5 separate regions of the Homo sapiens genome follow, and all the other regions are linked to region 1. Evidence: fine-mapped expression QTL. A gene starts in region 1. Each other region holds a variant in brackets. All regions are shown on one strand. Distances are between the middles of the regions.

The links. PIP is the estimated chance that this variant, and not a neighbour inherited with it, causes the effect. A credible set is the group of variants that fine-mapping cannot tell apart.
Region 2: its variant is the best candidate, but not a certain one, in a credible set for the expression of CD36 in whole blood (TOPMed, PIP 0.52).
Region 3: its variant is the best candidate, but not a certain one, in a credible set for the expression of CD36 in whole blood (TOPMed, PIP 0.88).
Region 4: its variant is the best candidate, but not a certain one, in a credible set for the expression of CD36 in monocytes after LPS (Quach 2016, PIP 0.88).
Region 5: its variant is the best candidate, but not a certain one, in a credible set for the expression of CD36 in whole blood (TOPMed, PIP 0.67).

What each region holds. Positions count from the first base shown.
Region 1 is chr7:80,636,515-80,641,399 of GRCh38, reverse strand. CD36 (CD36 molecule (CD36 blood group)) reads right to left here and starts at 2,758. Exons shown (of 15, transcript NM_001001548.3): 1 at 2,654-2,758.
Region 2 is chr7:80,667,843-80,672,727 of GRCh38, reverse strand. CD36 (CD36 molecule (CD36 blood group)) reads right to left here. Exons shown (of 15, transcript NM_001001548.3): 9 at 2,706-2,775; 10 at 1,564-1,751; 11 at 688-806. Among named protein-coding and RNA genes, the nearest start is that of CD36, 32 kb to the right of the region's middle. The variant C/T (reference allele first, on the strand shown) is at 3,087.
Region 3 is chr7:80,674,124-80,679,008 of GRCh38, reverse strand. CD36 (CD36 molecule (CD36 blood group)) reads right to left here. Exons shown (of 15, transcript NM_001001548.3): 14 at 4,862-4,885; 15 at 1-2,625. The coding sequence ends at 4,862. Among named protein-coding and RNA genes, the nearest start is that of CD36, 38 kb to the right of the region's middle. The variant G/C (reference allele first, on the strand shown) is at 1,975.
Region 4 is chr7:80,138,512-80,143,396 of GRCh38, reverse strand. The region is part of intron 1 of GNAI1 (G protein subunit alpha i1); the gene reads right to left. Among named protein-coding and RNA genes, the nearest start is that of GNAI1, 6.1 kb to the right of the region's middle. The variant T/C (reference allele first, on the strand shown) is at 2,663.
Region 5 is chr7:80,477,946-80,482,830 of GRCh38, reverse strand. It overlaps GNAT3 (G protein subunit alpha transducin 3), which reads left to right. Exons shown (of 8, transcript NM_001102386.3): 4 at 3,833-3,990. Among named protein-coding and RNA genes, the nearest start is that of GNAT3, 32 kb to the left of the region's middle. RefSeq lists an enhancer at 3,764-4,058. The variant T/C (reference allele first, on the strand shown) is at 2,580.

The sequences.
Region 1 (4,885 bases):
CATGAGTATAGAAGTTAGTTTTTAAAATTACTTTTTTCACATTATCATAACTATGTATGTTTATAAAGACACAGTTCCCTATACATGAGTAAAAATGTAGATTCAAATTCAAGGTAGTAGAAATGGGTGTAAAACAATCATTTAACTATGATTATGTTTCATCAACATAAGGTCATTAGGTCATTCTTTATAAAATCATGTTTAGAGATAGAATTCTCCTTTCAAGGTAAATTTTATGCACAATACCAATATAAAAGATAGTTCAAAGAAGAGTTATTTGGTAAAAGAAAGGAGCAGAAACTGTGCCTCTTCCCTTTCCCAGTCACGCTTCACTTGGGCTCTGAGTCATCTCCAAAGAACCCATGGGCTCCACAAGTAATTTTCAAATAACTGGACTATGAGATCTCCAGAATCTTATCTTACTGAAATTATCTCATGTCCATTTCTATCCTATCAGAATATATGATGGTAAAAATGTAAAATAGGAAAAAACTTGATAGACATCTGTAATATAAAATAATTACATACTTCTCAAATATTGCAATTTGTAACTTGTTTTGATGGTAGTCTTTAAAAACTAATGCAATAAATACATTGGACTTTATATATTATACTTGGGATCCTTCTAGAAACAAGTCCCGTCTTTTAAAGACTTATGAACCAGGGATTACTGTAGGTTTGAAATTATTCCCTTAAGTTCATACTGACTTAAAGAGTATTATCTAGACCCATTCTTAATTTTTGAACCTTAGACAAGAATGCTAATGTCTTTTTTCCACACCCCAAATTCTACTATAAACAGACACTATAAAGTTTGTAATGCCAAAAATGCTGGACCTTGAAGCCAAGAAATGTAGATTCAGTTCTGGGTGTTAGTATTGAAGTTTGTCTGTGATACAGTTTTCTCTAAAATGAGTTTACTTACATCAAATAAGGTTGCAAGTATTAAATGAAGTAAAATAATATATATTTATATTGTAGAAAATGTTATTGTTATTTTGAAATATTACTATGAAGTATCATTTCAAACCATAACAGTAAAGTGTTATTTCATATTGGCCAAGTGTTTTAAAAATCTAATAAATGTGTATATTTTACAAAAGTAGAAATGAGTATTTGCAAAATAGTTAGATTATAATGAAATGTGATCATATATGTATGGAATTAAAATATGCAAATGGAAAGACAGCTACTAGTTTAGAACAATGCTACTTGCAAGTTTCAGACACATCTTGGGCCAGTGAACAAAAACATCTTCTGATTAGATGCAAGGATACTTACAGAATTAAGTATCTGATAGTTACAGAATTATCTTAAACTTTCCTTTTCAGGAAACACACAGGAAATACACACACATGCAGGGTTCAAATGTGTTAAAGTAAACAAGGTTAAAAAAATTCCTTAAAAAAATAGGGTGGCAACTATAACTTCCAAGGTAAATTCCAAATTCAGTACACTCTGTGCAAGTACCTCCAGTTGTAATTAATATTCTTCCCAGGCTAACCCATTATCTGATGGTTCTCTGTTTGGTTTATTGTTCTGGTTCACTAATGAGTCTGGGAAATTAAATGATTTCTACTTTAGTTCTTATTTTCTTGTAAATTCCAAAGGACCACTGGACTTTCTATATAACAAACATTTTTAAATATTTCATTTTGGCTTCCTTGTGAACCAATATTTAAAGCAATATTTTTTAGCTTCAACACACATTACTGACTTCAAACCACACAGAAAAAGACTAAAAAGTACATGCAAATCTTTACAAAACAGGTTTCAATATGCTACTTGATGATTTCAGAAACTGGGATGTACTCTAGAGAATTTATGCCATTTACAGTTATTTATAATTTTAGTTAATGTATAATTAATTTGAGGCTTTTACTTAATTCCTCCAAATTGATTTCTCCTTTACTTCAACTTGGCATCATCATCTAATAATTCAGTACTATTTGTAATAAGCTTCCTGAATCGAAAAAAAATTAACTTTATTTTTATTCTACTAATTTACACTAATTAAATTTCAGATTATTTAAAAGTAATATACTTTGCTATTCCCAGTAACAATGACAATATCTTTGTTCATTACAGAAAAGAACTTAAAAAGCACATATCCAAAATACACATTGCATTTGATCATGTAGAGCAAGTCAGGTATACCAAAAGTTGTGCAATTCAGATTGAAAATTAAACAAGCTAATGACTCTGTAAAGTAATAGTTAATAATTGCATATTAGACAACATGTTGACATAAGAGCTGTAAGTCATTTATAACATCTAACCTCATTATATTGGTCTGCAGTATAATGATCTTCATCATTTAAACATCATGTATAAATAGCCTAAGTATAAAATGAAAGTTTTATAATAATCCAAATTGGATTATAAATCACTTTAAATATTAACTTATACATACGACATGAAATGCCATTGGGTATGGTTTAAGCATAAAATATAGGAAGGTTGATAACTTGAAAATAATGCAAACCTGATTTTTAGATAAAGCCTAGTGACTAAGAAAACAGTTACTACCTTTTTTCCTGTCCTCCTATATAACTTCTTAGGAGTATTTATACAGTAGTGTCACCTCCCGTCATCTGGGTGATGGGAAAAATCCCTTAATCTTTTTTATTTAAAGAAAAATCATACAACTTACCTTTAAAATGGCTAAGAAGGATTTTTCAATCAAATGCTCCAACATTTGGACAATTCTTAATAGGATCAAATGGTATTCTGCAGGAAAGTCCTACACTGCAGTCCTCAGTACATAAATGCGTGAGAGTTTAAATATGCAACCACACCCCCTCCCCCCCCCAAAAAAAGAGAAGAGAAAGCACTCTACAGTGTCAGATCCCAGTGTGTGGTTTGTTGCCAGAGGAATTGAAAGAAAAAAAAAATCCCCCACACAGCACATTACTGATATGGCTAATAAGGGTCTATTTTTATGTTCTGGTGAAGACCCATTACCTATATCTGAGATATTCAGCATTTTTTTTTTTTTTGGCTATTTCCCATCCAAGTAAGTCAGAGGCCAGAAAAACAAAAGGAACTGACTTGCTGAGTTTCCCCTAACATATTCTCAGATGCTGAACTGAGACCGCTGGTGGAAATAGTAAATTTGGAAGAATAATCATATTCTCACTTCCCTGTCTTGACTGAGCTTGCGAAACTTATTTTATTAAGTTTAAATTTAATGTACTTTTTTATACAGCGTAATTCTGAAATACTGTGAGACTAATAATTCTGAAAACAATTGGAGACTGTCAATCAGCAAGGATGACAAACTGACTTAAAAAAAGGAAACAGCCTATTGTTCTAGCTGGAAGTTCTTAACTGTTTATCATTTTCTGTTAGTTTTGCAAAAATTTCATGATCACAGCACAGTGCTCCTACAAAAAATAAACTCTTTAAATTTCTTCAACCAAAATATGTCTAAGTAGAATTACTATTGAGGATAATCTTTAGTACTTAAGTCACTTTCAAAAAAAAAAAAAGCATTATGTTGATATTGAATCAAAATAGAAGGCCTTGCACTTTGGGGAAAGAACCTTCACTATCAAGACCCTGTTCTTATAAAGAAATTCTCAGAATCATACAGGAAAACCTTCACAGGGTTAACCTGGCATGTATTTGATAGGAGAGCTGGATAAATGCATTCAAACAACCTTAGAAGTAAAGTAACCTAAGAATACCAGACAGAAATATATTTAGTTCATTAGGTCATATTTAAACCAGTCCTTAAGTTAGAATGCTCGTGCTGTCCTTTTTGGGCATGTGAGGCACACAACGAATCCTTTCATTTGCAAGCAGTGCCATACAACTGAAAAAAAAAACCCCAAACACTCTTTTCTCCTCAAGAATTTTTTTTCCCCAGGGAAGTTTTTACTGACATATTTATTTAAAAAATAAGTCATAAAAATATTGTAAGTCTATTACTTTTTTTTCAAATCTCAGACCACTTAATTAGGATAAAGTAGAAATGACCATGTGCAATCTCTTTATAATTTATGCTTTCAGTTAGAAAAGAATAACTCACAGTGATTTCATGAAACTTAAGAAGGTAATTCCCTTAAATAACTGCGACCTTTTATCTTGGTGGCACGATATAAAATGGTAGTATAAAGACATATTATTTTGGTTAAGAATATCTATTTTGTAGATAGCTGTTTTGTATTTAAGCTAATTTATTTCTCAACCTTAATTCTCACACACTCACACTCTAATATGACAATTCAGAAAAAGATTACCAACGAAAGGGTTCAGATAAGACCTGTTTAAAAGAGCATATTTTAAAGATATTAAAAGACTAAAGTATAATGAAAATATGATCGCAATTAGAGAAAGATTATTTCAGAAAAAATACATGCAAAATAGATGCCTAAGTTGACATTAAACTTACTTGGGTATTATTTAATCAGTAGCCTAATGCCATTCAAATCTGCTGTCACTGGAGAGGAAAATGTCACAGAGTCCCATGAGCAGTCCAAAGAATCAAATTTACATTCCCAGAGACAGCTGTTAAGTGTTCAATCCCATAGACAACAGTTCCTGAGTAGCTTAGCATACAAGATCTGAAAGCACACAGCTGAGTCAAATCTGCAACTGTGGATTTTTAGAAAAATATAGACCTTAAACAATAACATAGCAAAATGCTGTACCCATTTTAAAGTAAAGAGTGTTGGGGTTTTCATTTTTTTAAAGACTATGCACCCACCATATTTTGAAGGGATGTGTTTTATGTGAGCATATACCTTGCTTTATGTAAATCCACTATAACACTGGATTAATTTATTAGAATGACAGGATATAATTTTCAATCTACTTCAGTCAGTTTAGACAATTCTTTGGAAATTCTTTTTTTTTTTTTTTTGCAAGAGATCACATAGGG
Region 2 (4,885 bases), 31 kb before region 1:
TTATTTTATACTATTCAAAACTTATTTTTCTTACAGCAGAAGAGAAGGTAGTAACTTAAGGTTAAACAGGACTAATTGAAACTTTTAAAACTGCATATATAGTTATAGTTATATACACATGCATCCATATAGATACACACAATTTATTTGCCCAATCGAATGTCAAGGTTTTAGTTAGTTAGATTTGTGAGTTACTTGAAATGGTTTTTAAAAAATCAAAAATCAGCAACAAAATATAAGATCTCAGATAATTCCTGGTCAAATATATATTCAGTTAGAATCCATGTGTCATTGTTTAAACTAAAACATAACTACTAAAATCCTAGAATTTCATTTACTTTTTGAAAAGGAAAATACAAAAATAAAGATGATTAAAACTGTTGCGCTACAACAATTTTATAGATTTTGACAATAAGTATAGTCAAACTCACATATACTCTTTGACTTTTGCATAATATACAATAACTCCTCATCTAAACATAAATATTTATATAAAATTATTTTAAGCCAATTAGAATCACTTCATAAACCATAGGAAGAAATCGACCTAAGTTTCAGTAACTTTCAAGAATGTGATTCAATAAATATGATTATTTATTGAATAAATAATCATCGACAAGATTATTTTTATTTCAATTGTATTTTTAAAAATATCAACCAAATCAGATCAATAAGGTGTTTTCTTACAGGTTCAATATCCAAGTATGTCCTATGTTCTTCTTCATTTGGGTTTAATCCATCAATAGGTTCTGAAACATCAGGACTTGCATACAGAAAATGAGGAAGTGAAATGTACACAGGTCTCCCTGAAGACAAGTTTTAAGAGTCAATTGGAATTAATAACTTCCTTCATTTCACATATAACTCAAAAAATATTTCCACAAAACTAAAGCTTCTTGCATTAAAAAATACATGGTTTTTAACATGGGTGGGGAAGAATTATGTCAGTTGATTTCTACTATAAACTCCTTCAGTATTAATTTTCAATATGTAAAGCTTTCAGGCAGTAATATGTCTATGGACTAAGAATTTATTTAACACTAGTTTTTTCTTTCTTCTTCCACACCCACGTTAGTATGATAAATATGTACAGGATAAGCTAGTCTCCAAATTTTATGTTTAACTCTAGCTTTAGATACATACTGAAAATACATTTACCTGTACCATTTTCTAGTGAAAAAAGTTAGGACAGATGAATAACAGGATGTTTAATGTGTTCTCGGAATTATTTTCATTTCACCCTAAATCTAAAAGCAGCCACAAGGAAATACTGGTGTGGTTTTAACTAAATTTTGTAATACTGAAACACAAGTGGGATCTTCCCAAAATACAAAATCAGCACTAAAATTTTCTGCCACCATTCTTTCTTCTGCCCTAATTACTTTCTTACTTTAATTTTAAATTTTGGTTGCTAAAGGATTATGGTAAAGTTCTCATTTTAAAGAATATCACAAATTATGATATATTTTAAATTTTGGTTGCTAAAGGATTATGGTAAAGTTCTCATCTTAAAGAATATCACAAATTATGGTATGGACTGTGCTACTGAGGTTATTTACTCACCTTCTTTGCATTTGCTGATGTCTAGCACACCATATGATGTACAATTTTTTGAGATAATTTTTTCTGTGCAGAAACAATAGTTGTCTGGGTTTTCAACTGGAGAGGCAAAGGCCTTGGATGGAAGAACAAATCTATACACAGGGATTCCTTTCAGATTAACGTCGGATTCAAATACAGCATAGATTGACCTAAATACAGAGAAAAAAGAGCTGCATTCCAGGAACCTGAACTTACATTCTGGAGATTCATTTTTTCTTATTCTTGTTTTAACTTAGAAACATCATATACTCTTTTAAATTCTTGTTTCATTCTTAGAAAAAAAGTGATTGGGAAATTTTAACACATACTAAAACTCAATAGCCAAGCATGAACTATTCTTGTTTGTGAAGTACCATGTTTATTTATACTCAAGTTACTTCTCACAGGCAATTTATCCAATAGAGTAAATATTTATAGGACTTCCTTCAAATACTTTATTTGTGATCAGTTTAAATGAAATAGTTTCTTTCACGGCTTAATTAATCCTGGAAAGAAAGACCACTCACTGGAGTGTATGCATATACATGCTGGATATATACCTGGTACATTTCCATCGTTTACCAAGTGTCTATCATAGGGTTCAATACACATATTTTTCTTATCCCCAGATACACGTATATGAAGAAATACTGCTGTCTTAAATTGTACAGATAAGAAAAAAATTCAGAGATGTTAAATGCCTACCCACAAGCATACAGTCTTTAGGGACAGAGCTTGGGCTCAAGGGTAGTGGTAAAGGCTCCAGTGCTTGTGTGTTATCTACTGGGCCCCACAAATCTGAGCAGAGCACATTAACACAGTTCTGTTACATTTGCATCATCTTCTCTGTATGTCTTTAGAAAGATTGGGCACGCCCTTCTGGACTTGATCGTTAATAGACTACTAGTTTAGTTTTTAAAAGGCAAAATGGTTCTTGCTTAGATAGAAATGGCAAAAAAAAAAAAAATTTGTACTATTAAAAATTGGAAGATGCAGAAGAACATTTTGCAAAGAGTTAGTTAATAAACATGATGAATTTCCTATGCTGTGTTTAAGTTTCTTGGTCTGCATTTTGTCACCTGGGGTCTGACTCAGACATACTTATACTTCAGTATCTGTCTTACCTGCAAATATCAGAAGAAAAGAACTGCAATACCTGGCTTTTCTCAACAAAAGGTGGAAATGAGGCTGCATCTGTTTAAAAATCGAGTGGCAAATGATTAGATGTAATGTGTGTTCTAGAAAAAAACCTAGAAATCTCTCCTCCAGTGTAGTCCATAGAAATGTAATGCAAACTGCCTAAGTAATTTATCTAGCAGCCACATTTTTAAAAGGTAAAAAGAAATAACCGGCCAGGCATGCTGGCTCATGCCTGCAAGCCCAGCACTTTGGAAGGCCAAGGCGGGTGGATCACCTGAGGTCAGGGGTTTGAGACCAGCCTGGCCTACATGGTGAAACCCCATCTCTACTAAAAATACACAAAATTAGCTGGGTGTGGTGGTAGG[C/T]GCTTGTAATCCCAGCTACTTGGGAGGCAGCTATCCTGAGGCAGGATAGGCCTGCCTCAGCTATCCTGAGATAGGCGCTCGTAATCCCAGCTATCCTGAGGCAGGATAATTGCTTGCACCCAGGAGGCGGATACTGCAGTGAGCCAAGATCATGCCATTGCACTCCAGCCTGGGCGACAAGTGGAAAACTTTGTCTCAAACAAAACAAAACTATATTTAACTTATTAATATCCAAAATATTTTAACATGTAACCATTATAAAATATTTTAAATTCTTAAAGTCTCAAAATCTACTGTGCATTTTATATTTACAGCACATTTCAAATCATACTAGCCAGATTTTGAGTCCTTAACAGTTACATATGGCTGGCGGCTGCTATTGTCAACAACAAATCTACATACTATACATATTTAATGGTACAAAATAAAAGAAACTTAAACATGAAATGTTAAGGCTAACATTGTGTTTGTTTTTTGAAATGCCCTACCCCACCAGTAGAGTGGCACTTTTCTTCCAGTGAAGTTCATTTGGATCTCCTGCCATGTCCACATTTATTTGTAGTGATTTTTTTTCTCATTTGTCCTAATGGCTGATTACTACTTCTAAAAATATTTACTAAAGTTCTCTCACTAAACAGAACTTCAAATGCTTTGAAAGTGTATAAAAAAGTCATTTATTGAATTTACTTTTTGCTACAGCTATGATCCATGGCAAACATTGGATATATGAAGAAATAGTTAACTCCTCCATGTACTTCTCACATGAATATCACTAATACGAGCCGTCATTGAATGAGTTTTAAATGGTAAGTCTCATCTTTGATTATGCATTGTAGGTTCTTTCTCTGGCAAGTGTGTCAACCTTGTGACCTTGTTTTCATTAGTTTACACTCTTGTGACAAGTAAAATATAAGCCCCCATATGGACATTGACAACAACTGCTTTTCCATTTCCTTAATAATTAAAGAAAAATGCATTGAAAAGCTTTTAAGATCATTATCTAAAATATCATTGAAGATTATGTCCTAATTATACCCAGCAACTACCATGGACAATGACTGCAACATAGTTGATATTTGCAGAGCTTTTTTTCTGTCCTCCCAAAAGAAACATTCTAAATGTATACCAATACTTTCATTTTAAGTCTTTTCAAACTTACTGAAGAAGGTAAAGAGGATGCACTTCTAAATTACGATGAAAACACATTAGAACCTTACTGTTTTATTACTTTCTTTTCGCTAGTGCCATAAGCAAGAATCTCTCTCACAGGGATCATCCCCTGCTCTGTCCAAATTCCCTCTTTTCCTAGTTTGTATCAGCCCTATTTTCCCCATAGATATTTTTAACATCATGCCTGATGCTCATGCATTTCTATTATTGTCAATGAATCTTCTTTTTAAAGATTTTTCTCCTTAAAGAATCCTTTACTAGGATTAACACAGTATATTTATCTCTGCATCTAAGGACTAAGTATTCCGCTTATACAACTACTAGCATTGGTAGTATTGAGGACTTGAAAATTTATTTCCAGAAATGCTTTACTTAGAAAATAGCTTATTTGCCCACTCCTATGGCTCAAAACCCTGCAAAGCCTTGGCCAGGTGTGGTGGCTCAAGCCTGTAATCCCAGCACTTTGGGAGGCCGAGGGGGGCGGATCACAAGGTCAAGAGATCAAGACCATCCTGGCCAACATGGTGAAACCGTCTCTACTAAAAATACAAAAATTAGCTGGGTGTGGTGGCACATGCCTGTAGTCCCAACTACTCATGAGATTGAGGTAGGAGAATCACTTGAACCCC
Region 3 (4,885 bases), 38 kb before region 1:
TGAAGAGAGCAGCCACAGAGTCACTAATACATTGGACTTCAAACAGAAAAACTGAAATGTCAGTTGGTACACACCTAAAACAAACTCCAACTAGAAAGATAATTATGTAGCTCAGACATTGATAACAGGTTAAGAAATTTGTACGTGCATACTGTTTTTTTTTTTTGAGATGGAATCTCGCTCTGTCACCAGGCTGGAGTGCAGTGACGCGATCTCAGTTCACTGCAACCTCTGCTTCCCAGGCTCAAGAGATTCAGTCTCCCGAGCAGCTGGGACTACAGGCATGGGCCACCACACCCCGCTCATTTTTGTATTTTTAGTAGAGATGAGGTTTCACCATGTTGGCCAGGATGGTCTTGATCTCCTGACCTCGTGATCCACCTGCCTCCCAAAGTGCTGGGATTACAGGCATGAGCCACCATGCCTGGCCATGTATACACATCTTAATACAAATATTTTCAGAGATAACCATTGCGTGATAGCTATTTTTTTTCTTGAAATGATACCCTCCTTCACCCTTTTCTGTCAGAACTGAAAGCTACATAGCTTCTTCTATTTCTTCATGCACTTGTTAGAAGCAATATGCATTAACCTATTTTCCGATGCTGTTGATTCTCTAATCTGTTAATCCATTTGCAGACGCTATTGATTTTCAAACTTAAGTTATGAATACCTGCTATAATTCTGTGGTTAATAACCAGCTTTGGAAAGAAAATGTGCTTCTATCAAAGGGTACAATTTTTCTATGACTAAAACATATAAATTCATCCATGAGCAATTGCAAGTGTCCAAACATTTACCCTTTCTGAACAACATTAACTTCGCCAGGGCAAAACAAAGTCACACATGTAACATATTCCCCAAGTTGCCCCACTCCCACCACAGTGCATATGTGCACACACACACACACACACACACACACACACATCCAAAGCCCAGATTTCATGTAAAAAAAATCTCCCCTTAAGTAATTATTTTTCCTACTGCATATTTTTAATCTCGTTGTCTTTGTATATGAATTGTCTTTCCTCTTATATTCCTTTTACAGAATTTGAGAAATGAAACACTGAGGAATGATAAAGATTATACATGTATTCAAACAATATTAAAGACATATAGGTCAAAACCTTTTCTGATATCTAAATGCTATGAGATCATCCCTGTATTAAGATCTGAGTCATGATTAGTCATAATATACAGGTCAATATGTATATTCTCATCCAATTATCTTTAGAAGTTTCTACATTATATAACTCAGCCCTACATGCCTCAATGATTAAAAAACTTTCCTTTATATTAGATGGACATGTCCACAAATATCCTAATGCAAATAGAATAAACCTTGTATTATCAGAAGAACATGTCTACAATGTTATCTTACATATTAATATCTTGGACAGATACTTCTTTTATCTTCCCAGTTAAAAGGAAAGGCACTAAGTATGCTTTAAGCACCTTCAGAGATGCAAAAGATCTTTCCAAACAGGTAGATTCTTGGTTTGTGGCTTTTCTGTAGTAATGCTCAACATTTACTCTGGCGGCTATCATAAGGAGGAGGCTAAAAGTTATTTTCGATTTTAGTATCCAAACAGGCCAGTTACTATTCCTTTGTCCTGTATCCTTCTGTGGGTAAAACACAAGCTAGAATTTGGTTTATCTTCCCTTTCTATGCTGGAGCTTTTTAGGAGAACTAATGCTCTCAGAATAAGTGAACCCCTGCTCAAGAAACAGAGTTACCTATTAATGTGTCTCCTTATGAAAAAGGAAAAACCTTTGCAATTGTCCTACTGCTGTAAAGGATGAAACCAAATGTCTTTTTGTTCTTCATCCAATTAGCTTAAAAAATTAGCCTAGAACAAAGTGGTAGAAATTTAGAAAGCATATTTCAGCAAGGACTATGGATTTATAAAGAAATGTGGATTCAGATAAAATATACTTCAGAGAGAAAATTAGGATAAACATTTTATGACACAA[G/C]AGGAACTAGAAAAAGCACAGGAATTTAAGGAAGAACATATTTTAATGGTTGAAACCTGTCTTTATGAGGCGATTATGACAGCAAAAAATATTATAATGAATAACAATGCATAGTCTACGCTTTGTAATATTTCATACAATAATTCCTTTATCATTTACATCTCTTAATGCTAGAAAAGCATTCTGAAGATGCCAAGCGTAAGTTGCAACTGAGTAAAAAAAAAAAAGCAAAATTTACTCAATTTCCAGAAGAGGTGCAGAACAGAGAATGAAGGTCCTTAAAATATAAACCGCTAGTGTGCTAAAATGATGTCCATTTGCAGGATCAGTGACAAAATATTTAAGCCCATAAAGAAAAGAGTTATACCTGCTGTATGAAGGTATTCATAGAGAAATATGAGTCATAAGCCAATTATTTATAAATGTCTTTCAAAATATTTGGTGCACATGAAATGCAGTATACTGATGGTCCTGGAGACTGTTGCAGTTGAATAGGGCAGCTACTGGGATGATGGTGTTTCCCCCGGATGAGGATGACAGGAATGCAGGGCCTAGGATTTGTTGAGCATGTACACTCTTCTTCTGAATTGGCCACCCAGAAACCAATTATTGAATCAGAACAACACAAATTGGTTTGTGCTTGAGCCAGGTCTGTAGAAACGGAAATCAATTCAGTTGTGGAAATGATGAATTTTAAAAGCTGCTGGGTTTTTTTTTGTGCAAGGTAGAGATTTTCATAACATCTCAATAATCCTTTTGAAATGTGCAGTTGCTTAGTGCAAAAAAAGAAATAGTGCCACCATTTCTTCAACTAAAAGATAAGGTGTGCTTTGTAAAAGTAAAGCATATCCAATTTTCATCCTGTTGGTCGGTATTACCAAGGGTCATGATGTAGCTGGCGCACAAATGTGAAGAATCATTTACTACCTGTAGAGTGGCAGTATATCTTAGATATCATACTTTTTATTAATCAGTTCAGTTTCTCTAGCTGCAGAGAGAAGTTCTCTAACGGACTTCACCAATAGGGCAAAACACATTCCCATTCCAGAAAGGCACATAAGAAGGGTGCTTCAAGACAAGCACACACCAGGCAAGGAACGGTAGCTGAAGTGCATCTGCCCTGGACCAGCATTTCCACACCCTTCAGACCAAGTTCCATTTAAAGGTGTATGTACTACTTTCAAAAGGACCATTGGGTTATTTTCTTGTGACCCCCTGAGTAAAACCACACATTAAAGCTCCACCGTCTTACACTTTGCTACTTCTTACATACCTGTCTTCTTACTTGTTCCTATTGTTTACAAATCTGCCCAAAGATATAATTTTTATGATATTAAGAGCTGAATTTTGCTTAAGAAAATCTACATATCTTTTGTGATTCTTCTAAATCTAGTAAATCAAGTAATCAACAGTTTATTCTCTGCTTGTAAAAAAGGGTAGTAATTTTTCCACATAAAAATCAAATATATAAGCAAAACTAATATATTTGTTGACAAAGTTGCTCCAGCAAGCCTTGAATTTTTCATTATAATTTAGCTATAAATAGACCCAAGGAATCTGACATCCAAGGATCATTAAGCAATCATAAAAATGTATCACATAATTTTAATTCTGAATACTTACTTACAAAACATGTTTATAACTTCTGCATTTCCTTTTATTAAGCATGCTTTCCCATTAGGACAAGTTTTTTTGTTATTTTGTTTTACTTTTCAGCGGATGATCTATTACATAGTCATACAAATACCTTTGTTTAGTCATAATTTGTCAGTAGGCTACTGACAGGTATTGAAGGTAATATTTAACTTTTTATAATGTGAACATTTTAGGCTAGCATTTTGAAGCCATTCTGTCCAAATAGTTTGGATGCAGAATTATTGTCTTTTTGGTGACTAAATAGTGGTAGAAGTGATTAGAACCAAAAATTAGGTTGCCTTTTCAAACACAAGCTCTCCATCTCACAAAAGGAAATTATTGGTCCCCAAATTCCACTTTCACTGATTTATGCTTTGGTCACAAACAATTAAAATGTATGATTTCATGGAACATCTCTAGAAGATAGAATGGATGCTGATGAATCCAGGCTATTGGAAAATCATGAAATTGTATTAGGGATCATGTGAGATAAAGAATCTTTCTTTAGCATGGTACTGGCACACAGTAAACAACTAAATAAGTTATTATAACACACATACTGCTTTTATTTACATTGCCTTGAGGTGGGCTGAAGAAAAATAGGGAGAAAGTAAAAAATTCTCCCCCACAGGCAACACCAATGTTACCTGTGATAACTAAAAAAAGGTTTTCCTTTAGGAAAGGTCAGGCATTCATTCATCTTTAAGAGTGCATGGACACTAATATCTAAAGCATAGAGGCCTAAACTCTTGTACACCACTCTGAGTACTTGGTTCTACTATGTTGAACACTATTTTCCCCTATTTCCTGATACTATTATATTCAAATTTTTGTTCAGGACTTTTCTGGATTTGGAAAATGCACGGCCAGCATGTCTACATGCAGCAATCCTGGTCTTATGAAACCATTTCCTAGTCAATTATTTTTAAGTATCAGATAATATATAACTAGCTATATAATTGAGAAATGAACCAGTCAATTTTGGACAACTTTGGCACAAGTGCTTTATTTGTGCTATTGTTACAATGGTCACAAGTACATCTTTTATCTCATTTCTCCCAGAATTAAAGATATACTTTAGTGATCTGCGTGATAATATTTATAGGTTTATTTACCTATATTTAAAAATGATCAGTGGCTAGACATGTCTAGAAATATATATGGCCTAATATGTAACTTCTCTTTGATAAAGTGAAAACAAGTAATATATAAGCTAATATTATTGAAGCAATATTTTTTGGTACATACTTACTTATTTTATTGTTTTCGATCTGCA
Region 4 (4,885 bases), 500 kb after region 1:
AGATTTATAACCAAAGTAATATCTGAGAGGCAAGCTACCTCCACCTCCACCCCCCAAGATCAACAATGAAGTCCCAATATTGACACTCACCTCCCCTACCTAGTATCTATTTTATTTTTTCTTCCCCATTTGACATTATGAGGACTTATCTTTATGTATATATTGTATTTCCCCAAGTAGACTGTAAATTCTCTTAAGGATCTGGTAAGGCTAATGCGTAATTTGACAGGAAAAGCATGGAACACATCTTACAAATGCTACTAGTGATCATCCTCACCACATAGGAACAAGCAAGACATAAAGAACAGTCTGCTGGTGAGCCTCTGAGCAGCCTGCTGGCTCCTGAAAGCTGAGGTTTACCAGAGTCACATCATCCTGTGTGAAATATATAGTTGTGAGTATATATTAAATGCCACATTGCAATAGTGTATGCATTTTAAGAAAGCAGCAAAATAACATGTGAAACAGCAAGGCAGCAATACTGTTAAAAACAAAGTTCCCAGAATATTCAAATATGAAAATCACATTTCACTCTACCACTTATTTACCAAGAATCATGATTTTGATCATGCAACAAGAATATGGTCCCCAAAATTAGTTTACTTTTTAGAAATGTGTTAGGAATAATGTAGTAGGTTTTCATTACTCTAAACCAGCAAGATATATATTGGGCTAAAATTCACTCAAAATACCCAAGGCACAAAGAATATGTACCAATTTTTCCCTTTAAAAGAAAACTAGTCAAAATTAATGTTCAACAATTTATCCATTAATTTAACCAACAATTATGAAACAGCTACTATGTGCCATCCCATCAGATGATAAGTCTGACAAGATTCATGCTCTGATGGGGCCAATGCCATAGAGAAAGGCAACAGACAATAAAAAATAAAAGTACAAGATGATTTCAATATGGTATTAGTAGGAAGGGAGACGAAGGAAGACTAATTTAGACTGGATGATCAGGAAAAATGTCAATAAAGAAGAGGCAAAGAAAAGCTTTATTCTTTCACATTACGACTTGAGTAACACCATGGGTTCAATATGACATGTAAGAAACTGGTGCTTTTAGTGTTACCATGATAGTCACATAAATTATGAGGGACTGGAGAATGTAAAATTACAATTATTTTGCACTTTCAAAAGTGATATATAAGATACTGATGAAGATAATGGGAAATGGGGTGCTGCTATAACAAACACCTAAAAATGCAGAAATGGGCAATGGGCAGAGGCTAAAAGAATTTTGAGAAGCATAATAGAAAAAGTCTAGGTGGTCTTGACATACTGTTAATAGAAATACGATGTTAATGTCTCTCCCAGTGTGGGCTCAGAACGAAGTGAGAAGCATGGTAGATGACACATTATCACCTTAGAAAATATGTGAATTATCATGAACATACTATTGCTAGACGCATGGAGCTTAAATTTGCTGCTGATGAGGACTTGGATGGGAAGAAAGGTGAAACATGTTATCAAAAACTAGAGGAAGGGGATCCTTGCTATATACAGGCAGAAAGCTTAGCTGAATTAAGTCCAGCAGTTACGTGGAAAGCAGACCTTGTAAGCTATGAACCTGGACATTAAGATGAAGAGATTTCCAAGCAAAGTATTAAAGATGTGGCCGGTTCTTTGTTTTTGTTTTTTCTTGCTGGTTACAGTAAAACGGGACAGGAAAAAGGTGAAGTAAAAGAATATGAAATGAAATAATGCTGTCAGACCACCATAATTCCAGAGGCAAGAAACAGGCTGATAAAAGTAATCAGCAGCATACAGGTGCTACACCCTTCATTAGAAAAGAAGGATGACTCCCAAGAGTGGAGAAGTTCAGTACCCACAGGGTGGAGTAAAGAGTCACAGAGAACTATCCCCAGTCCTTGAAACCTAAAGGAGTTTTGAAAGTGCTCAAAACTAGAGACTCCTTTTTTCTTTCCATTTAATGATAACCTATGCCTGACCCACCATATTCTGGGAGCAGATAACTTGTTTGCTAGTTTCACAGGTCCACAAACAGACAGGAATTTTGTCCCAGTATGGATTACACCCAGAATCTCACCTATTCCTGAGTTAGATCAAGAGCCCTGGTTGAGATTTTGCAGTCAGTTGTGGCTGTATTGGGTTGAGACTTTTGGAGATGTTGGGAGAGGGTGAATGCATTTTGCATGCAGGATGCACATGAGCCTTTGGGAGCCAGAGGGCGGACTGTGGAAGGCAAAATAATGGTCCCCAAAGATAAATATGTCCCAATCCCTGAAACCTGTGAATATGTCACCTCACAGGGCAAAAGGAATTTTGCAGATGTGATCTTGAGATGGGACTATTAACTTGGATTATGTGGGTGGGCCCAATGTAATTACAAGGGTCCTTCCAAGTGAAAAAGGGAGGCAGGAGAGTGATGCCACATGAGAAAGACTCCACCAGCTATTGCTGGCTTTGAGATGGAGAAGGCACCATGAGCCAATGAAAGCAGGCAGCCTCTGTAGAGCTGAAAAAGGCAAGGGAATGGATTCTCCTCTAGAATCTCCAGAAGAAAAGAAGCCCTATCAACAACCTGACTTTAGCCCAGTGGAAACCCTTTTTGGACTTCTAACCTCCACAACTGTATGACAATAAATTTTGTGTTGTCACTACGTTTATGGTAATGAACATTCATTAAAAAAAA[T/C]TTTTTGCCCTATTTCCGTTACGGCTTTTAATTGGCACTAACAAGTTATGACAGAAACCAGTCTGAGCACTAAAAGATTAGGTAGAGCTGACCTTAGTTCGTAAGACTCAAATGGAGTCTGGGATCTGAACTTCACTGTGTCATACTCTGGGGAGTCATACATTGGTTAACTGCATGCCAGAACATGTGACCAAGAAATCTGCAACAAACACACTCAAATACACTCAGGTCTTCCTGTGTGAATTTGTTGTACACAGAATTTTCCAAGGCAGTTAGACATGTGTAACAAAATAAAAATTGATTGTGGTTGAATACACAATTTCTGTTTAAAAAATTACAGCAGTCTTTTTCAGGTTTAAATAACATCTATTAAATTCTGTAAGATAGGCATGTTTCCTATCACTGAGACATTCAACAACAGTCATACTTTTTATGCATTAGAAATTGGGGCCAAAGGGTGCGGTGGCTCACCCCTGTAATCCCAGCACTTTGGGAGGCCGCGGCAGGCGGATCACGAGGTCAGGAGATCGACACCACTCGGGCTAACACGGTGAAACCCCGTCTCTACTACAAATACAAAAAAATTAGCCGGGCGTGGTGGCAGGCACCTGTAGTCCCAGCTACTTGAGAGGCTGAGGCAGGAGAATGGCGTGAACCCGGGAGGCGGAGCTTGCAGTGAGCGGAGACTGCGCCACTGCACTCCAGCCTGGGCGACAGAGCAAGACTCCGTCAAAAAAAAGGAAAAAAAAAAAAAAAGAAATTGGGGCCAAAAATAAAAATTAGAAAATGAGATCTACCTTTACAAAAAAAAAAAAAAAAAAAAAATTGCAGGGCAAAGTGCCATAATTGCAACATAGCAGATCCTCCTCCAATGAATATCCATTATCATTTTCTCAACTTTAATTTATCAAATACAATGACTGTGAAAAGCTCTTATAAATATGAAAAAAAATCTTAAACCAAACAATTTGATTTTAGATGCCATGTGTTCACTGTGGTCATCACATAATTTACTATTCCTTTTTTGTTTACATAATTTGGCTGGACAGTTATTTGCTCTCATTGATATTGAAAACAGCAGAGCACAAAGTTTATATTCCAGCAAGATAATAATTTTACATAATTAAGAAGCCATTTTACACATAATAAAATAGAAGGGTTGTTAGGTATTCAAAGAAAACCTACAAAAATTCTGCCTTTAAAGTGCCCACAGCAGTAGGAAAATAGGCTGGGCAGAAGGATAAACAATACCAGAAATCAAGTGCAAATATGCTTTAACATGTGCCAACAGTTTCTGTTTGGAGAAGGGTGCCCTAAGGAAAAAGTATAAGGCTAGAGGGAAGCCAAGTCTAAAAGATTTTATTCTGCAGGAAACGGAAAAGTCAACAAAGGTTTCTGAGCAAGGAAGCAGCATGATATCTGCAGTAGAAAGAACAGGCTAGAGGGAAAGACAAGATGCAAGAGAGCCTATTGGAATTAGGCTGCCAGAGGCAGAGAAGGACTTGAACTATGAATATGAAAATGAAAAACAGAAGGTACAGAAAAAAATCAGCAATTCCAAAACCTGTGGCTTCTTACTAAAGTAACTAATACAAGGTATGCCATGAGAAAGAAGCACACAACCCATACTGAAATACCGGATCCGTTTATTCAAGGAAATGGGCTTTTTGACATCTAAGATCCTAAACCAATTCTAAGAAAGTCAAAGCAATGAAAAATCAAAAGCCCTGCATAGCCAACATTTCTCAACTAGGGGAAGTCACAGGGCAAGTTCAAAAGGAGTGAAGATTAATGATGCAGCATCCCAAAGGGCTGCCTGGTGGCAGCAATAGAAAAATATCCACCAAACAGAAGAAATCCAATCCCTCAGCTCATTTTCCCCCAAACCTGGAATATTTAAACCAAGCTGAAGAAGGAGACAAGGGTGTGGAATTTTGTATATGAGGGGGAGTGGAGCGGAAGGAAGGACAGTGAGGTGGAATAAATGAGAATACTGCTCAAAGCTTTGGAACAGAAAATAAATTCATGATCATTTATTTGTATGTCAAATCTTATGTCCTCCAAATACATAATAAAATAATATTTCATAAGTACAAGTAGTATACTATAGTTACCTACCGAAATAAAGCATAAGCTTAATCTTACTGCCCTTAAAAGGATGATAAATTAAAACATTCTCAAAGATATAACAATAAAAAATAATTTCCTCAACAATTAGACATT
Region 5 (4,885 bases), 160 kb after region 1:
GGACAGGTATGGTGGTTCACGCCTGTAATCCTAGCACTTTGGGAGCCCGAGGTGGGCAGATCATGAGGTCAAGAGATCGAGACCATCCTGGCCAACATGGTGAAACCTCGACCCTACTAAAAAAAAAAAAAAAAAAAAAAATTACAAAAATTAGCTGGGTGTGGTGGTGTGCACCTGTAGTCTCAGCTACTTGGGAGGCTGAGGCAGGAGAATCGCTTGAAAGTGGGAGGTGGAGGTTGAAGTGAGCCTAGGTTGTGCCACTGCACTCCAGCCTGCATGACAGAGCAAGACTCCGTCTCAAAAAACAAACAAACAAACAAACAAAAAAACAAAAAAGAAAAAGAAAGAAAAAAGAAAAAGAAAATAAGAAAGAAAAACAGAAAGAAATGAAACAGTATATTTGTTTGGTTTGTAAAGCTATGCTGACAAGATATATAATTTTTTCTCCTTAGGGATAAAACTGTGTAGTGGTTGTTTTATGGCATCATTCCTCCTAAACAGCACTTTAATAGTGGAAGGAGCCAATAGCATGATGCTAGTGAAAGTGACCAGAGCATATTTCACTGAACTTGCAGTTCTCTTTCATATCCATTTAACAGAGAAATGGGGTTTTAAAAATCTATCCTGTGTTGATGCAGGAAAATCAGGTTGAGACTTGATATGGCCATTTGTTGACAAAAAAGCCAAACTCCGTAAAATACTTGAAGAGATTTATTTTGAGCCAAATGTGAGGGCCATGACCCATGGCACAGCCTCAGGAGGTCCTGAGAACATATGCCCAAGGTAGTTAAGTTATTGCCTGATTTTATACATTCTATGGGGATTAAAGTTACAGGCAGATATCAGTCAATACATGCAAGGTCCAGAAAGGCAGGACAATTTGAAGCGGGACCTTCCAGTCATAGGTGGATTCAAACATTTTCTGATTGGTTGAAAAGAATTAAGTTATTTTCTGATTGGTTGAAAGAATTAAGTTATTGTCTAAAGGCCTAGAATCAGTAGAAAGGAGTCTCTAGGTTAAGAGTCTGTGGAGACCAAGGTTCTTATTATGTAGATGAAGCCTCATAGGTGGCACCCTTAGAGGCAATAGATGGCAAATATTTCCTATGTAGACCTTTAAAAAGTGCTAGACTTTCAGCTAATCTCACCAGGATCAGAAAAGGCCTTGAAAAGGGAAGGGGCTTCTCTACACAATGTAAACTTCCCCCACAAAAGACAGCTTTTATTTTCTTGTTATTTTCTTTTATTCTTTTATATATGCCAAAAAAATATATTTGGGGGTAAAATAATTTCTTTCAGGGCCTGCTCTATACTGGAGTCAGTTTGGAATTTGGAATCTTATTGCTATAAAGATTCTGTTTTATCAGTCCTAAGATCTCTGTTTCAATGTTAATGCGGGTGAGTTATGCCTGAATTCCAAAGGGAGGAGGGCCTAATGAGGCATGTCTGACCCCACCCTTCCTATCACAGCCTGACCTAGTTTTTCAGGTTTACTTTGGAATTCTGTTGGCCAAGAGGGATTTCTGTTGGTTGCGGGGCTTAGAATTCTGTTGCTTGGGGGACTTAGAATTTTGTTTTTGGTTTACACATTGAATATGTGGACCAATGACCATCTGATCAGTTTACTTTTAACAATAAAAGCTGATTGTGAAGAAAGATAGAATAAGTTATTTTCTTTTTTTACCCTTACCAGTGTCTCTTTAACAATAAGTGACATATCCTTATTTTTTATACAAAGAACAGATTTTTGATAAAATGGTAGAAAAAAACTGTAGTCAATTCAAAATAATAATAAGCTGAGTTGTATCAGAAAAGCAGCAAGTTCTTATTGAACATACTTCACTGGTAGTGTCAGAGGCATTTGAACCAGAGCAACTTCATCTTAAATAGGAGCTGAGGAAAATGAGAATGAGACCCACTAGGCTTCATTCCCAGACAGTTAAGGCATTCTAAGTTACAGGGTGAGATAAGGAGGTCGGCACAAGATGCAGGTCATAACGACCTTGCTGATAAACAGGCTGCAGTAAGAAGCTGGCCCAAACCCACCCAAACCAAGATGGCCATGAGAGTGACCTCTGCTTGTCCTCACCGCTATACTCCCACCAGCACCATGACAGTTTACAAATGCCATGGCAATGTCAGGAAGTTACCCTATATGCTCTAACAAGGGGAGGCATGAATAATCCACCCCTTGTTTAGCATATCATCAAGAAACCACAAAAATGAACAACCAGCAGCCCTCGGGGCTGCTCTGTATATGGAGTAGCCATTCTTTTATTCCTTCACTTTCTGAATAAACTTGCTTTCATTTTGCCCTATGGACTCGTCCTGAATTCTTTCTTGTGTGAGATCCAAGAACCCTCTCTTGGGATCTGGATTGGGACCCCTTTCCTGTAACAGTAACAGCCTGACATGGCACAAAATGCGCTTGTATTTGACTCTTATTCTGATACTTATTGTATTTACTGGTTTACTCGTTTCTAAAACTCTGAGTTTTAGATTCCTCACATGTAAAATGGAGAAAATATAGTGTCTATCTCATGGTTGTGAGGATTATGTGTGATATTGCATGTGCAGTT[T/C]TGTAAATTGTAATAATATGCACTAGGAGGGTTATGAGCTAAAAAAGATATCAGTTTTAGAGGCTGACAACAAGGTTGAGTTCAGACTTCTCCATTTGCCTGGGCTATTACCACAGTCAATTTAGTTATTCTGAAACTCAACATCTTAATTTTTTAAAAAATGATTTGTCATAAAGCTATTTTGATTATTTGTTTAAATAAATTGCAGACTATAGTATTTACTCAGTAAACTTCTATTTCCTTCTTTGCTGGTAACCTCCAAATGTTATCCCAACAGGACTAAGACAATAATTCCTTGCTTTGCATAAAAAACTCTCACCTCTGTCCTACTGATTTGTTCCAAAGGCATATGCAATCAACAATGCCTACAGGGATGTTCAAAAATATTATGTGGATCCAAATGTTTACCATTCTTTATATGATTACGAGGCAGTAACCCGATGACAAAAAAACATTATATATTAATTTTTTGAAACAATACAATTTTAGAATAATGAATTTATTTCCATTTTTACTCTAATTTTTTTTTTTTTTTTTTTTTGAGACAGGGTCTGGCTCTGTCACCTAGGCTGAAATGTAGTGGTGCAATCTCTGCCCACTGCAACCTCTGCCTCCCAAGCTCAAGCAATTCTCCCACCTCAGCCTCCCAAGTAGCTGGGACTACAGACATGTACTACATCCCTGACTAATTTTTTTGTAGAGAAAAATTTTGCCATGTTGCCCAGGCTGGTCTCAGACTCCTGGGCTCAAGTGATCTACCCACCTCGGCCTCCCTAAGTGCTGGGATTATAGGCGTTAGCCACCATGCCCGGTCTACTCTAATTTTTACTTGGCTTTTTTTTTCTAGAAAAATTCATGGCGATGATTAAAAAAAGAAGAAGATACCAGATTAAATCAGCTTAATTTTTATTTTACCTTGGTATAATATGTAGACCTTTTGCAAACTTAGTATGACTACAGCAAAGTATTATTATCCTCCTTGATATCATATTCAGAAGTCAGTGACATATTTCAAAATATGCTAATTTCTTCACATAATATTTTATAGTTTTTGCAAAGGAGAACTCTTCTGGGCATCATCCAGCCATGAAAAACTTTAGTTCTATTTACCTCAATATAGTTCAAAAAGATGTTTGGTGGAATTATTAGCTAAAAGAATAAGATTAAAATTATCCCAGTAAATTACTCTATTAGAAAATAGAATATGTGATTCCAAATAATACATACTTATTCTCACCAAAATATTGTTCTAGGAGGACCAACGACAACTTTATGCAATGGCAAATACCCTGGAAGATGGTGGCATGACACCTCAACTGGCTGAGGTAATAAAACGGCTGTGGAGAGATCCAGGAATTCAGGCCTGCTTTGAAAGGGCATCTGAATATCAGCTCAATGACTCAGCAGCTTAGTAAGTGAATTCACTTTAAGGGGAATTGGAGGTAAAACATTTAAAATTAAGAATTATAATTCTGCATACTTTGCATTTGTAAATTCAAATGAGGAAAATAAATGGTGTTACATTTTATTAGAGTAAAATAAAAAGCAATTAAAGAGAAATGAAAATGAACAAGGTGACATAATGAGATTTAAGAAAATATAACCAGGGGAGCATTTTAAATAACTAAGTTTGAAACTGCCTGAGAAGATTCTATGGTGCAAATATCTTCTCTTGATTAAAAAGTGTTAACCTTTATGCATAGCCTTTCACACTAACACAGACTGGTGACATGCACACTGAGGTTTTGGGCTATTCATTTCATCTCTATCCATATTAGTGAAATCATCTCCTAGATTAATTTCATTAATGACACATGCCTTGGCTCATTGGGTTGATGACCATGATACAAAATTCTAGAAGAAATTAATGAAATGATTTCCAAAATACTTGTATACTAGGAGATTCTTTTGGAGTCTCAAAAAATTCTATAAATTTCACTGCTTGTATCATCCATTTAGCATTAATTAACCATAAGGAAATTAGGGGCTTGTGACACTATTTATAATTTCATTATCAAAGTGATTTAAAATTTTCCTTTAGTGCTGGGCACAGTGGCTCACGCCTGTAATCCCAGCACTTTGGGAGGCCATGGCAGGCAGACAGCTTGAAGTAAGGAATTTGAGACCAGCCTGGGTTACATGGCAAAGCCAAGTTGCTACAAAAAAATACAAAATTAGCCAGGTGTGGTGGCATGTGCCTGTAGTCCCAGCTACTTGGGAAGCTGAGACAGAAGGATTGCTTGAGCGCAGGAGGTCAAGGCTGCAGTAGGCAGAGACTGCACCACTGTACTCCAGTTGGGGCAAAA